3 separate regions of the Homo sapiens genome follow, and all the other regions are linked to region 1. The links come from fine-mapping of genetic effects on gene expression. A gene starts in region 1. Each other region holds a variant in brackets. All regions are shown on one strand. Distances are between the middles of the regions.

Evidence for each region. PIP is the estimated chance that this variant, and not a neighbour inherited with it, causes the effect.
Region 2: its variant is the best candidate, but not a certain one, in a credible set for the expression of SLC15A2 in whole blood (INTERVAL, PIP 0.77).
Region 3: its variant is the best candidate, but not a certain one, in a credible set for the expression of SLC15A2 in whole blood (INTERVAL, PIP 0.84).

Annotation. Positions count from the first base shown.
Region 1 is chr3:121,892,748-121,896,992 of GRCh38, forward strand. It overlaps SLC15A2 (solute carrier family 15 member 2), which reads left to right and starts at 1,654. Exons shown (of 22, transcript NM_021082.4): 1 at 1,654-1,834; 2 at 3,659-3,746. The coding sequence starts at 1,730. RefSeq lists enhancers at 80-613, 614-1,146.
Region 2 is chr3:121,940,922-121,945,166 of GRCh38, forward strand. SLC15A2 (solute carrier family 15 member 2) reads left to right here. Exons shown (of 22, transcript NM_021082.4): 22 at 1-3,267. The coding sequence ends at 86. Among named protein-coding and RNA genes, the nearest start is that of SLC15A2, 49 kb to the left of the region's middle. The variant G/A (reference allele first, on the strand shown) is at 1,829.
Region 3 is chr3:121,916,827-121,921,071 of GRCh38, forward strand. All of the region lies in intron 7 of SLC15A2 (solute carrier family 15 member 2), which reads left to right. Among named protein-coding and RNA genes, the nearest start is that of SLC15A2, 25 kb to the left of the region's middle. The variant G/C (reference allele first, on the strand shown) is at 2,440.

The sequences.
Region 1 (4,245 bases):
AGCATAAAATGCACCTAGCATTATGATGTTTGTTCTTGTTCCTCTTCTGATAAGGACTAAATGTATAATTAAGGAAAATGGTGTTCACAACAGTACCTAGAAAGTAACTGGTTCACAATTTTTGCTCAAATTAAATTTTATTTATTAAATGAAAGAATAGATTAATCTTGAAGTGAGAAAATGAAAATATAAGGAGTGACTTTAGCAAAGAAGAACAATGGTTCCCAAATGTATATCACCAATCCTTTTCTCTCATTTTCTTTAGCCCCACCTCTTTAATTGCTTATAGGCTATTTCTAGCTGAACTTTTATGATGTTGAAAACAAAAGTCTCCTTCCTTCCTTCCTTTCTTTTCTTTTCTTTCTTTCCTTTCTTTCCCTTCTTTTCTTTCTTTCTTTCCTTTCTTTCCCTTCTTTTCTTTCTTTCTTTCAAGTCTTGCTCCGTCGCCCAGGCTGGAGTGCAGTGGTGGGGTCTCGGCTCACTGCAACCTCTGCCTCTTGGGTTCAAACGATTCTCCTGCCTCAGCCTCCTGAGTAGCTGGGACTACAGGCGCGTGCCACCACACCCAGCTAATTTTTGTATTTTTAGTAGAGATGGGGTTTCACTATGTTGGCCAGGCTAATCTTGAACTCCTGAGCTGTGATCAGCCCACCTCGGCCTCCCAAAGTGTTGGGATTACAGGCGTAAGCCTCTGCACCCAGCCAAAACTCACCATCTTTCTTATCTTCCAAACTCAGTTTTATGATGACTTTCCTTCTCCAATGCATTTTAATCCTCTGCATTCCTACATTCCATTTATGTAACCTCCATACCTGAATAATGACTGACACTAACTCCACTTTTCCCAGCTGTCATGGCATAGTGAAAATTCCAGATCTGCCACTTAGTGGACAGGTACTTTGAACAAATTTCTTAACCTCTGGGAACATTACTTTCTATAAAATGGGGATAGTAATATGAATTAGAATAAATATATATGTTATAGATATACAACATAGATGTAATTCATATATATTAACCTTTCAATAGTAGATGTTCAATAAATTACAGCTATTGTTACCCTGAAATCAGTTTTTCTTTTTTTTTTTTTTTGGAAATGGAGTTTCGCTCTTGTTGCCCAGGCTGGAGTGCAATGGTGCAATCTCAGCTCACCGCAACCTCCGCCTCCCAGGTTCAAGTGATTCTTCTGCCTTAGCCTCCTGAGTAGCTGGGATTATAGGCGCCCGCCACCACACCCAGCTAATTTTTTTTTTGTATTTTTAGTAGAGACGGGGTTTCACCATGTGGGCCAGGCTGCTGACCTAAAACGATCCGCCTGCCTGGGCCTTCCAAAGTGCTAGGATTATATGCGTGAACCACCGCGCCTGACCATGGAATCAGTTTTTCAATCTGTGCTCGAGGTGTTGTGTTCTTAACTATCTTCTACTCCTTTGCAAAGATAATCTTTCTTAAACATAGACTTTCTAATCAGTTCTCTAGCATTGTTTCATTCTGTCTTTGGCATGTTTTCACTTTGCTGTGCTGTACTTTTACACATTCTTTTTAACTATAGCTTCCTGCTTTGCTCTGGATCAGGAAGCTATTGAAGCTGACACCCACAGAGTTAAACTGAGTTGCTGAAGCCACCAGCTCCCCCTCCCAGTCCTTCTTTTCAGAGTAGGCTGGCAGCTGTCCTAACTGCCTACTAAAGCCAAATGCTTGAGGAGAGAGAGAGAGTAAGGAGCCAGCCATGAATCCTTTCCAGAAAAATGAGTCCAAGGAAACTCTTTTTTCACCTGTCTCCATTGAAGAGGTACCACCTCGACCACCTAGCCCTCCAAAGAAGCCATCTCCGGTGAGTCCTTAGATTCAATCCTGCCTCTGAGAGGAATGGCCTCCCTCTTTTGGCTCTCTTCCTTGGGCTCTGGAGCTTCCAGCTGAGCTGTATTAGGGTATTAAAATGCTTCTCTCTTGGATTTAGAATTCACCTGAAACCAAATCTAAACAGAAGCTTCCTTTACATAAGAAGACAAAGCAGCAGGAAGAGGTAGTCAAAGTTCTTCAGTTGGGATCCAGGGACTTGCTGAATTTCATTGCATATTCTGTTTCCCTGGGGGAAAAAAGCAATTCGAATGTCCAGGGAAACTTGGCAAGCATTCTTGTCTGAAGAACTGTGTGTGATTGTTCTTTCTTTACCAATATAAAAACTCTGCCCTTAGTTCTCCCTGTGTGCAGAGTCTTCTGCTGAACACCAATGGAAGTTTCAGAATAGATCCAATTTCTGTTACTATGTGTTCCCAGTTTACTGTGGGAGATAGGACAGAGAAACAGAGAATAGTAATGTTTTGCATTTATATACTCGCTAAAGCACTTCTAAACTCATCATCTCAGTCAATTCTTACACTAAAATTCTGTAAGTGGGGAGGATATAGTAATGATAGCCAAAATTTACTGAGTTCTTACAGTGGGCCAAAAGGTGATGTTATTCTCATTTCTTTGGAATAACAGAACAGAGGTTTTGAGACAGGTGTAGTGACAATGCCAGTATCAGTATGTTAACACAGCCAGTGGCAGTGTTGCCTAACTAGCTAACAGTGTGTCGGCTAAACTCCAGATTGCATAATTCTCAAGCTGTGAGCTGCAAAGGTAAGAAGCCCAGTTCATTGTATGTTTCAAACAAGCTATTATAAAACATTAAAATATATTAATATTTAGGAGGATCATTTATATATATCCCTAGGGTTAAAAGAATAATACATTACTTTATTATTTTGCCTATTTTTTTAGTTAATGATATCTCTTCTGGTCCCAAAGAATTTAGGGCTACTTGCAAAGATGTATATACTTCTCATGAAATGAGGCAATATAAATCTTACAAGATTTGACTGTACTGAGGACAGATACCTCTATGTCTCTTCTCATGTTAGTTGGTCTATTGTAATAGATAGGGAATTAAAATAAAACATAACATTCCTTATATTCTGACTGATATATTACATGAAAAGCATAATTCTTTTAATGTCCAGTAGGATTATCATGAAAATGTTATAGAATCTCTTTAGTAGGAAGAGTAGACATTTAATTTTACAGGATTTAAGAACTCTGCCTAAAGTCAAGGTGATCAATTAGCTTACCCTTAGGAATCTCTGTCCTCCATGTTGGGCTCTGTGCCTGACTCCAGCAGCCTCTGAAGTAGAAGCTATCATATTGCCAGGATTCCTCCCAGCATGGCAAACAGAACAGCTGGGGACAAGAGTCCCCATAGTGGGGCTAAGCAGAGACTGACATCTGAATCTCACTGCTTGGATATCAGGTATTCCATAGGCTACCTCTTTATTCTGTTCCTAGGAAGTAAATATCACCATTCTTCTGCCCCAGAGCCCTAGGCTTTTCATTTAGTAGTTGTGGGAAGATGAGCAGGTCCAAGGAATATTTGAGCAAGTCCATGTAAAATAAATAAGAAACAAAATAATATTCAGAGTAGCTTCTATTATTTCTAAATCAGTAATATAAGCACTTTTAGTGTTACCTAATAGGTGTGTCATGAAGAGTAGAGACCATTGCTCCATTACCTACCAAGATGATTTGAAATAAATGAATTTTTCAGTTTTGAAGAAATCTAATTGTTGAAACAGGGAAAAACAGCTCATGCTTGAATCATTGCCTTCTTGTTGAATAGACAATCTGTGGCTCCAACTATCCACTGAGCATTGCCTTCATTGTGGTGAATGAATTCTGCGAGCGCTTTTCCTATTATGGAATGAAAGGTAATTTTGTGTCCAAGAGTCCTACCTACTCTCCTCCACCCACCCTCACCCCATGTTTGTGACAGCCTGGTCTCTTTATATGCACTTATTTCCCGAGTCCACTCTTTCTGCCTTGGTCCAAATTGGTCCTTTACTTTGGCCAAGACTTCCAATAAATCTCTCATAGGATTTCACCTAATATGTAGGCCAAGATCAGAAAGGCCTGAGACAAACCAGAACATAGACTTTGAGAATGGGTAAGTGGGTGGAGCTGGGCATGATGGCATGTGCCTGTAGTCGCCACTACTTGGGAGGCTGAAGCAGGAGGATTGCTTGGGCCCAGGAGTTCAAGGTTATCAGGCACCTGTAATTGTGCCAGTGAATGGCCACTGCACTCCAGCCTGGGCAACATAGCAAGAACTCATCTCCAAAAAAAAAAAAAAAAAAGGGGGGGGAGGGAAAGCTCTCATTATCTCAGTTACATTTTTCATACCTGTTCCTCAGGTATGAGCTAACAGCT
Region 2 (4,245 bases), 48 kb after region 1:
AGGATATGCGGGGTCCAGCAGATAAGCACATTCCTCACATCCAGGGGAACATGATCAAACTAGAGACCAAGAAGACAAAACTCTGATGACTCCCTAGATTCTGTCCTGACCCCAATTCCTGGCCCTGTCTTGAAGCATTTTTTTTCTTCTACTGGATTAGACAAGAGAGATAGCAGCATATCAGAGCTGATCTCCTCCACCTTTCTCCAATGACAGAAGTTCCAGGACTGGTTTTCCAGTACATCTTTAAACAAGGCCCCAGAGACTCTATGTCTGCCCGTCCATCAGTGAACTCATTAAAACTTGTGCAGTGTTGCTGGAGCTGGCCTGGTGTCTCCAAATGACCATGAAAATACACACGTATAATGGAGATCATTCTCTGTGGGTATGCAAAGTTATGGGAATTCCTTTATAGGTAACTGCCATTTAGGACTGATGGCCCTAATTTTTGAGGTGCTGATTTAGAGGCAAAATTGCAGAATAACAAAGAAATGGTATTTCAAGTTTTTTTTTTTATAAGCAATGTAATTATGCTATTCACAGGGGCCTCAAGAATTGGTATGTATGATGTGATCTGGTCCAGCCAGGGCCTGGCTTGTCAGCTCTCTAGGTTTGATATGACTTTAGTAAATTTGTCAATATAGATGGTAGGAAGCAGAATGCCATTTTATTAAAACACAGGAGAAGTTATATCTCTCTGATTATGATAGTATTTTATTTACTTATCCAAACCCTCCTTTCTCAGTATGGATAGATCATGGAAACCAGATTAGAGATAGTAAGCATTAGTAAACATTGTTCTGGAGAACAGGAACAGGTGTAAGTTGTAGAAATCCTGAAGAGCCAGTCATTCTTTTACAGAGTACATTCTTCTTAGCCTCTATGGCGCTGGTCTATGCCCTTCAGTGAACAGTTGTATAAACAATAATTATAATTTGCAACCTTGTCTTGTCAACCTTGCTGATCCAGCTTTTTCTTATTATTACACCTTGTCTTGCTTATTGCAGCAAATATTCAATAACAACAATGTTTCTATAAGTCCAACTTCCTTTATTAATGTTTCCATTTAGCCTCAAAAATATCAAAGTAGTTCCTTTTTGATGTTGTTTTCCTGATTTACTTTTCCCATAAGTTTTAAATACCATTTCTGCCTTGAAGCCTAGAAATTTTCTTTTTATTCAAAAAAAGTTACATTAATGCTCTAGGTTTGAGGTTCTAAAATGGAAATGTCAATAGAGGAGCATGGTCCTATGTGAGGTTCCTATCAAAATTTGTGGGAGTAGGGATGGTAGAGCATGAGGGTTTTGTTTGTGTATGTGTATGGTCATGAAAAAAAATTGAGAAACATTACCTCATACACAATGAATGAATCAGAGGACAGACACGGGAATGGCACGACTGTGCAGTGTGTTACTAGGAAAAAAGTTCAGAATCACTGTTCTAGAGAGCTTCATTTCCATTGGTTTTAAAACATTATTCTCATGTAGAACAGTGTTGGGTCTCATACTGTTAATGTTAATACGTAACAATGTTCATGTTAACAGGCACCTGTTAATATTAACAGATAATGTTACTGTTAACAGGTAAGAGAAATTGCTCTAAGTGCCCAAACTTTATATACTTCAGTTTTAATGACAAGCATTTCAGAAATATAAGAGCGGCAGCCAGACCAACCAGTTTTTCCAGATATCTTGATGTGAACCTGACCCTACTCCTTTAGAAGACAGCCTGTTCATTTTTAAATAGCTTTAACCCAAACTGTTCTATGACCATTGTTTCAAGAGACATTAACACAGTTCTGTAAATAGAAGTGTCTATGGACAAATAA[G/A]TTTGGGAAATGTGGCATACTGTATCCTTTTCTTAACATTTGCATATTAAAGACTCTGAGATATCCTGCAGTAAAGACACAAGATACCTTGTTTAAATTAACATGTACGCTGCAGAACATTGGTTTGGAAAAAACTGTTGAGCAGTTCTTCCTTGTAAGTGCTGAGCTTCCTCTCTGAAACCTCCTACCATTGTTTTTTTTCCCCTGTAGCTAACAAGAATAAGTATAACAGCCGGCCAGGCACAGTGGCTCATGCCTGTAATCCCAGCACTTTGGGAGGCTGAGACAGGTGGATCACCTGAGGTCAGGAGTTCGAGACCAGCCTGGCCAACATGGTGAAACCGTGTCTCTACTAAAAGTACAAAAATTAGCCAGGTGTGATGGCAGGTGCCTGTAATCCCAGCTACTCGGGAGGCTGAAGCAGAAGAATTGCTTGAACCCGGGAGGCAGAGGTTGCAATGAGCCGAGATCACGCCATCACACTCTAGCCTGGGGGACAAGAGTGAGACTTCATCTAAAAAAAAAAAGAAAAGAATATGTATACCCCCTTTTTCATGTGGCAGATGTTTAGCTATTTGGGGAGAACTTTCATGGCTCTTCCCTAATCATCAAGTATTCAAGGTAAAGATTCTCGGTTCCTGTAATGGTTCCTCACCAGGCATAATTTGTCCTTTTACCATCCTACTTTCTGTCTTCTGAAAAACATTCTTTATCTGAAATACAGCAATTAATATTAAGATATCTTAATATGAAGTGCCTGGAGTCAAATATAACATTCCAAAGTAGTCTGACTGGAAGAACTAGCACCTGCCTTTCTTCAAACAATGCACTTCTGTTAATGCAGTGTAAGGTAACATGAGTTGTTTTTGGAAACTACATCATAATGTGGGCTTACATTCTAGCACTTATCACTTAATGACAGGGATACATTTGAGGAATGCATTGTTAGGCAATTTTGTCATTATGCAAACATCATAGAGTGTACTTACACAAACCTATGGTATAGCCTACTACACATCTAAGTTATATGGTATAGACTGTTTCTCCAGCTATATGGTGTAGACTGTTTCTCCTAGGCTACAAACCTGCACAGCATGTTACTGTATTAAATGCTGTAGGCAATTGTAACACAATGGTATTTTTATACTTAAACATATCTAAACATAGAAACGGTACAAAAAACTTTACACATTATATAGATGTATCAAATTATTCATATGTGCTCTGAAAATGTCTATATCTGTTATGTATCAATTTTTTAAAAAGTGAATGACATAATTCATTTGAAAAAATGTGGACACACAAATTGGAAAAGAGGTATAAATGCAGTATTATAATCTAATGGGACCACCATCACATATTTGGTCTGTCATTGACTGAAACTGCAATATAGAGTTTTTCTTAACATTTGCATATTAAAGACTCTGACTATATATGGACATATATGACTGTCACCATTGTAAGACATTTTGATGTTATTCTAAGTGACATGTTAAACCATTGGAAGTTTAGAACATGAGAGTGACATAATGTGATCATTTAAGATCACTTTGGCTGCTAAGGGGAGAATTATCTATAGTCAGGAAGGAAAAGAAGTAAGGAGTTAAGTTAGGAGGCTTTTGCAATAGTTCAGGCAATAGATGGTAGTGACTTGGACAAGGTGATAGTAGTGGAGGTGGAGAGAAATGGTTTGACTTGGAATTAAACTTTAAGCTAGAACTGACAAGATTTGAGTGTAGTTTGGATACACAATTTAAAAGAAAGAAATGCGCCAGATGTGGTGCCTTACACCTGTAATCTCAATTCTTTGCAAGGATAAGGCAGGAAGATTCTTTGAAGCCGGGAGTTCAAGACCACTCTAGGCAACATAATGAGACCCCCTCTCTACAAGAAATAAAAATAAAAAAATTAGCCGGGTGTGGTGGTGTGCACCTGCAACCCCAGCTTCTCAGGAGGCTGAGGCAGAACAATCCCTTGAGCCCAGGTGCTTAAAGCTGCAATGAGCTATGATCACACCACTGTACTCCAGCCTGGACAATAGGACCCTGTCTCAAAATGAAAGAAGCGGTGGGGGGTGGAGAGAGAGAGAGAAAGGAAGGAAGGAAGGAAGGAAGCAAGGAAGGAAGGAAGGAAGGAAGGAAAAAGAAAAGAAAAAGAAAGAAAGAAAAAAGCTCACTCCTAGATTTGGTCCTAAGTAGTAAGGATGAATCAGGATGCAATTTTCTAGAAATAGCAAAGACTAGGATAAGAAAAGTTTTCTGGTATGAGTTTTGTTTTGGACATGTTGAGCTTCTACCCATGCTAATGGATATCCAATTAGAGACATTAAGTTAGCAGTTTCATATATGAGTCTGAAGATCAGGTAAGAGGTTGGAGCTAGAAACATAAACTTGAGAATCATCAGCATATATATGGTA
Region 3 (4,245 bases), 24 kb after region 1:
TTTTTCTTTTTTGAGATGGAGTCTCGCTCTGTCGCCCAGGCTGGAGTGCAGTGGCATGATCTCGGCTCACTGCAAGCTCCACGTCCCGGGTTCACGCCATTCTCCTGCCTCAGCCTCCCGAGTAGCTGGGACTACAGGCGCCCACCACCATGCCTGGCTAATTTTTTGTATTTTTAGTAGAGACAGGGTTTCACCGTGTTAGCCAGGATGGTCTCGATCTCCTGACCTTGTGATCTGCCTGCCTCAGCCTCCCAAAGTGCTAGGATTACAGGTGTGAGCCACCACGCCCAGCCAATTAATTTATTTTTTCATTCACTCATTTTTTTAACCAACATTTAATGAACCTATTGTGTGCCATATTATGTGCTAGGTATTGGGATCACATTGGTGAATTAGATACCTAGAGCATTCATGTTCCCAAAGAACTTATATAGTTCAGTAGGGAAAGGAAGACAAACAAATAAAAGGAATTTACAATATGGTATGATCAGTATTTCCCAGATCAATATAGTGTGATCTAGGAAAGTACAGAGAGAGCTATGGGAATGCATAGAAGCAATGTTTAATTAAGACCTTGAGGGACCGGGCATAGTGGCTCACACCTGTAATCCCAGCACTTTGGGAGGCCGAGGCAGGAGGATTGCGTGAGCTCAGGAGTTTGAGACCATCCTGGACAACACAGCATGACTCCATCTATACAAACATTTAAAAATTAGCCGAGTATGATGGCGCACACCTATGATCCCAACTATTTGGGAGGCTGAGATGGGAGGATCGCTTGAGCCCAGAAGGTCAAGGCTGCGATGAGCCATGATTGAGCCACTGCACTTCAGCCTGGGCAACAGAGCAAGCCCCTGTCTCAAAAATAAATAAATGAATAAAATAATAAATAAATAAATAATACTTTGGGGATTGTAAAAAGTTTGCCTAAAGGAATGACATTTAAGGTGAGACCTAAGGGCCAAACAGCAATTAATCAATAAAGAAATTATAAGTGATGCAGAAAGAGGACACAGTAGCTGTAAGACAAGAGGCTGAGAAATAGCATGACATGTTTAAAGGTTTTAAAGGCATTCAGATTACCTAAAGCATAAAAAAGAATGATAAAGAGGAGAAACTGCCAGAAACCAGATAATGAAGGGCCTTTTAAACCAATAAGAAATTAGAACTTTATTGTGAGGGAGAGTGGGGAACTCTAAAAACATTTTAACAGAGGAATAATTGCTAGATTTTAATTTTTCAATGATGTTTCTATAATGTAGAGAAAGGATTGTGTTGGAGTGAGGCAAAGATAATATTTATTTTGATTACCGAATTTTTTGATACTTGCTTAAATTTAGTGCTTGAGATGAGTGCTTCACTCAGTTTACCCTAATCTGGCCCTGGTTGAATTAACAAACCTTAGAATGGTTAGATATGTTAAGTGAGGGAGAAGATAAGCCAAGGTTTAATGTAGTGTTCTGAACCTTGAACAACTGGGTAGGTAGTGGGGTTATTAACTGAGCTAGTGAGGAAAAGCCAGTTTGGGGCAATGTTGATAAATTTAGTTTTGAACATGTTGCATTTTATATGTTCTTGGAATATTTAATTGGAGTTACCAAACAGTTATTTGGAAATACAGGATTAGAGCTTAGAAGAAATGTTTGCACTATAGATATAGATCTGGAGTCATTAGTATATGGGTAGCAATAAACCATGAAATGAAGATAGATAACTAAAAGCTAGAAGAGTAAGGTTAAAAAAAAAAGTGGGGTGGGGGGATAGGTTCAAACTTCAAGAAACGCCAGGATTTAAAAGACAGGCAAAGAGGAAAAGCCCACAAATGAGACTAAGAAGGAATGGCCAAAGTGGTAATAGCGTTATCTTGGATATGAAGAAGATTTCAAGAAAAGATTCATTTAGAGTGATAAATGTTCCTGAGTGGGAGATTAAGATAAGGGTGACAGATGTCTATTAAATACAACAACAAGGAGGTCACTGATACGATTAGATCAGTTATGGTAAATGGTGGAGGCTGAAGACTGATTGGAGGAGACTGAGAAGTAAATGTTACAGGATTCCTTCAGTGCTGCTTTGTCAGCCAGAAATCTCTGTGGCCACTACCGCCTCTGTCTGGGCCTTGCTCTGGCCCACTGGGCTCGCTCAGCCTGCGACTGGACTGGGCATGTAGCGAGCAGCTTCTGTGTTGGGTGCGGCATCTAGACAAGGGGAACACGGTGGCGCCCAAAAACTCGGAGATGCTAGCAATTGCAGAGTCCTAAGAGGTGTTATAGCTCCTGCTCAGGGAGTCCCAAGGTCTGAGCCCCCAGAAATGTTACAGCTGTTCACTCCTGTAGTTCAACGAGCAGGAGCATGTTACAACTCTCTCCTGTAGTCTAGCGAGCGGGAGCGTGTTACGGCTCTTTTATTCCCGCTGCCCATAGCTTGGCGAGCTGCCCA[G/C]GGGTGTCACAGCCCTTTCATTCCCATCACCCACAGCTCAGCAAGTTCCGGGTTCTTGTCCCATGATGAAGAGGAATGGGGTGTGTGGACACCAGAGAGTGAGTAAAGCAGAGAAGAATTTTATTGAGTGGCAGAAGGAAAGCTCTGAGCTCCTAGAGGGGACCCGAAGTAGGTAGCCGTCTGTGAGGCTTAGTGTGGGTTTTTTATGGGTTTTGAATGGGGGAGTACATGCTGATTGGTCCATGGGTGGGTTTGGAAAAAGTACCACTAGATTGGTTAAAAGGCATCATCCAAAAGGAACCAATGGAGAGAGAGGATAAGACGGAGATAGAAGTTCTCACTCAGGTCATGGACTCTATCAGGAACCGGCAAGTCGGTTTTCAGGCTTTAAACTGTCTTTGGCTTGAAGGTCGGGTTTCACTGGGACCCGTCCGTGTCTGCCTAGGAATTTATCTGTCTCTTGTCACTATCAGTAAGAAAGTGAAATAGTATTTATAGTTGGAAGGTGACATGGATTCAAGAGAGGATATTGAGCATGTGTGAATATTATTAGGAATAATCCAGTGGAGAAAGAGGTTGAAGATACAAGATAAAGACAGTATAATCAGTATGAAAACACATATGAGCAAATTAGCTGCGGATAGGAGGAGGAATATCACCTTCACCTACCTGGAGGGAGGACAGGATGAGTGTGGATACAAGAATTAATAGATCTGGTGGCAGGGAGTTGAAGGAGTTTCCATTTGAAGGTTTCCATTTTCTTTGTGAAGTAAGAGGCAACATCATCTACTAGAAGGAGTAGATAGTAGAGAAATTCAAGGTTTATACTCATCTTCTTTAGTTAAGTGTCTTTGACATGTAAGTATGACTTTAGTTGATTACATAAGTCTTCCTATTATCACTCCACTGTCACTATTGCAACCAGCATTCCTGTGGTGTCCAGCCTCTTTCTAGGATCATTCTTAGTTTCAGGAGCAGTTTATTCCCTACCCAAAATTTTCCTTTGTCCAGGTATCTCTTTTTTTGTTTTTTATTTTTTACTTTTTTTGGAGACATAGTCTCACTGTGTCAGCAGGCTGGAGTGTGGTGGCGCAATCTCAGCTCACTGCAACCTCCGCCTCTGAGGTTCAAGTGATTCTCCTGCCTTAGCGCCTAAGTAGCTGGGACTACAGGTGCGCACCACCACGCCCAGCTAATTTTTGTATTTTTAGCAGAGATGGGGTTTCACCATGTTGGCCAGGTTGGTCAGCTCAATCTCTCGACCTTGTAATCCATCCGCCTTAGCCTTCCAAACTGCTAAGTTTACGGGTGTGAGCCACCGCGCCCAGCCGTCTAGGTACTTTTTTATCTGCCCACTTGACTCTCAGGATTAGCATTCCTCCACTGAACTATTTTTTCTATCAACCATGAGAAGGGTATTATAGATAAAGGATGCTATTTGGAGAAGCTTTGGGGAAATTGAGAGGATGAATGAGAAAAAGTGGTAGAGTGAATCTAAATGAGACGAATGGAGATATTAAAAAGTGATGGGAGAGAAAAGTAAAGTGATTTGTGCATTCTGATGTGTAAGGATACTGGAAAATGCTACTTGTCACTGAGAAAATCATCTTTAGCAGAGGATCTACTAGAGGGGCATCACGCTGAAGCTGGGAAATCCGTTAAGGAGGAAAGTGCATCTGGGAGGGAACCAAGATGGAGTATTTCTACTGATTTTAATTGAATGAAATTGAAAAAACCACTATTTTATAACTACAAAGGTAATACCAGCTCATTGTTAATTTGGAAAATAAAAGGAAAATTAAAGAA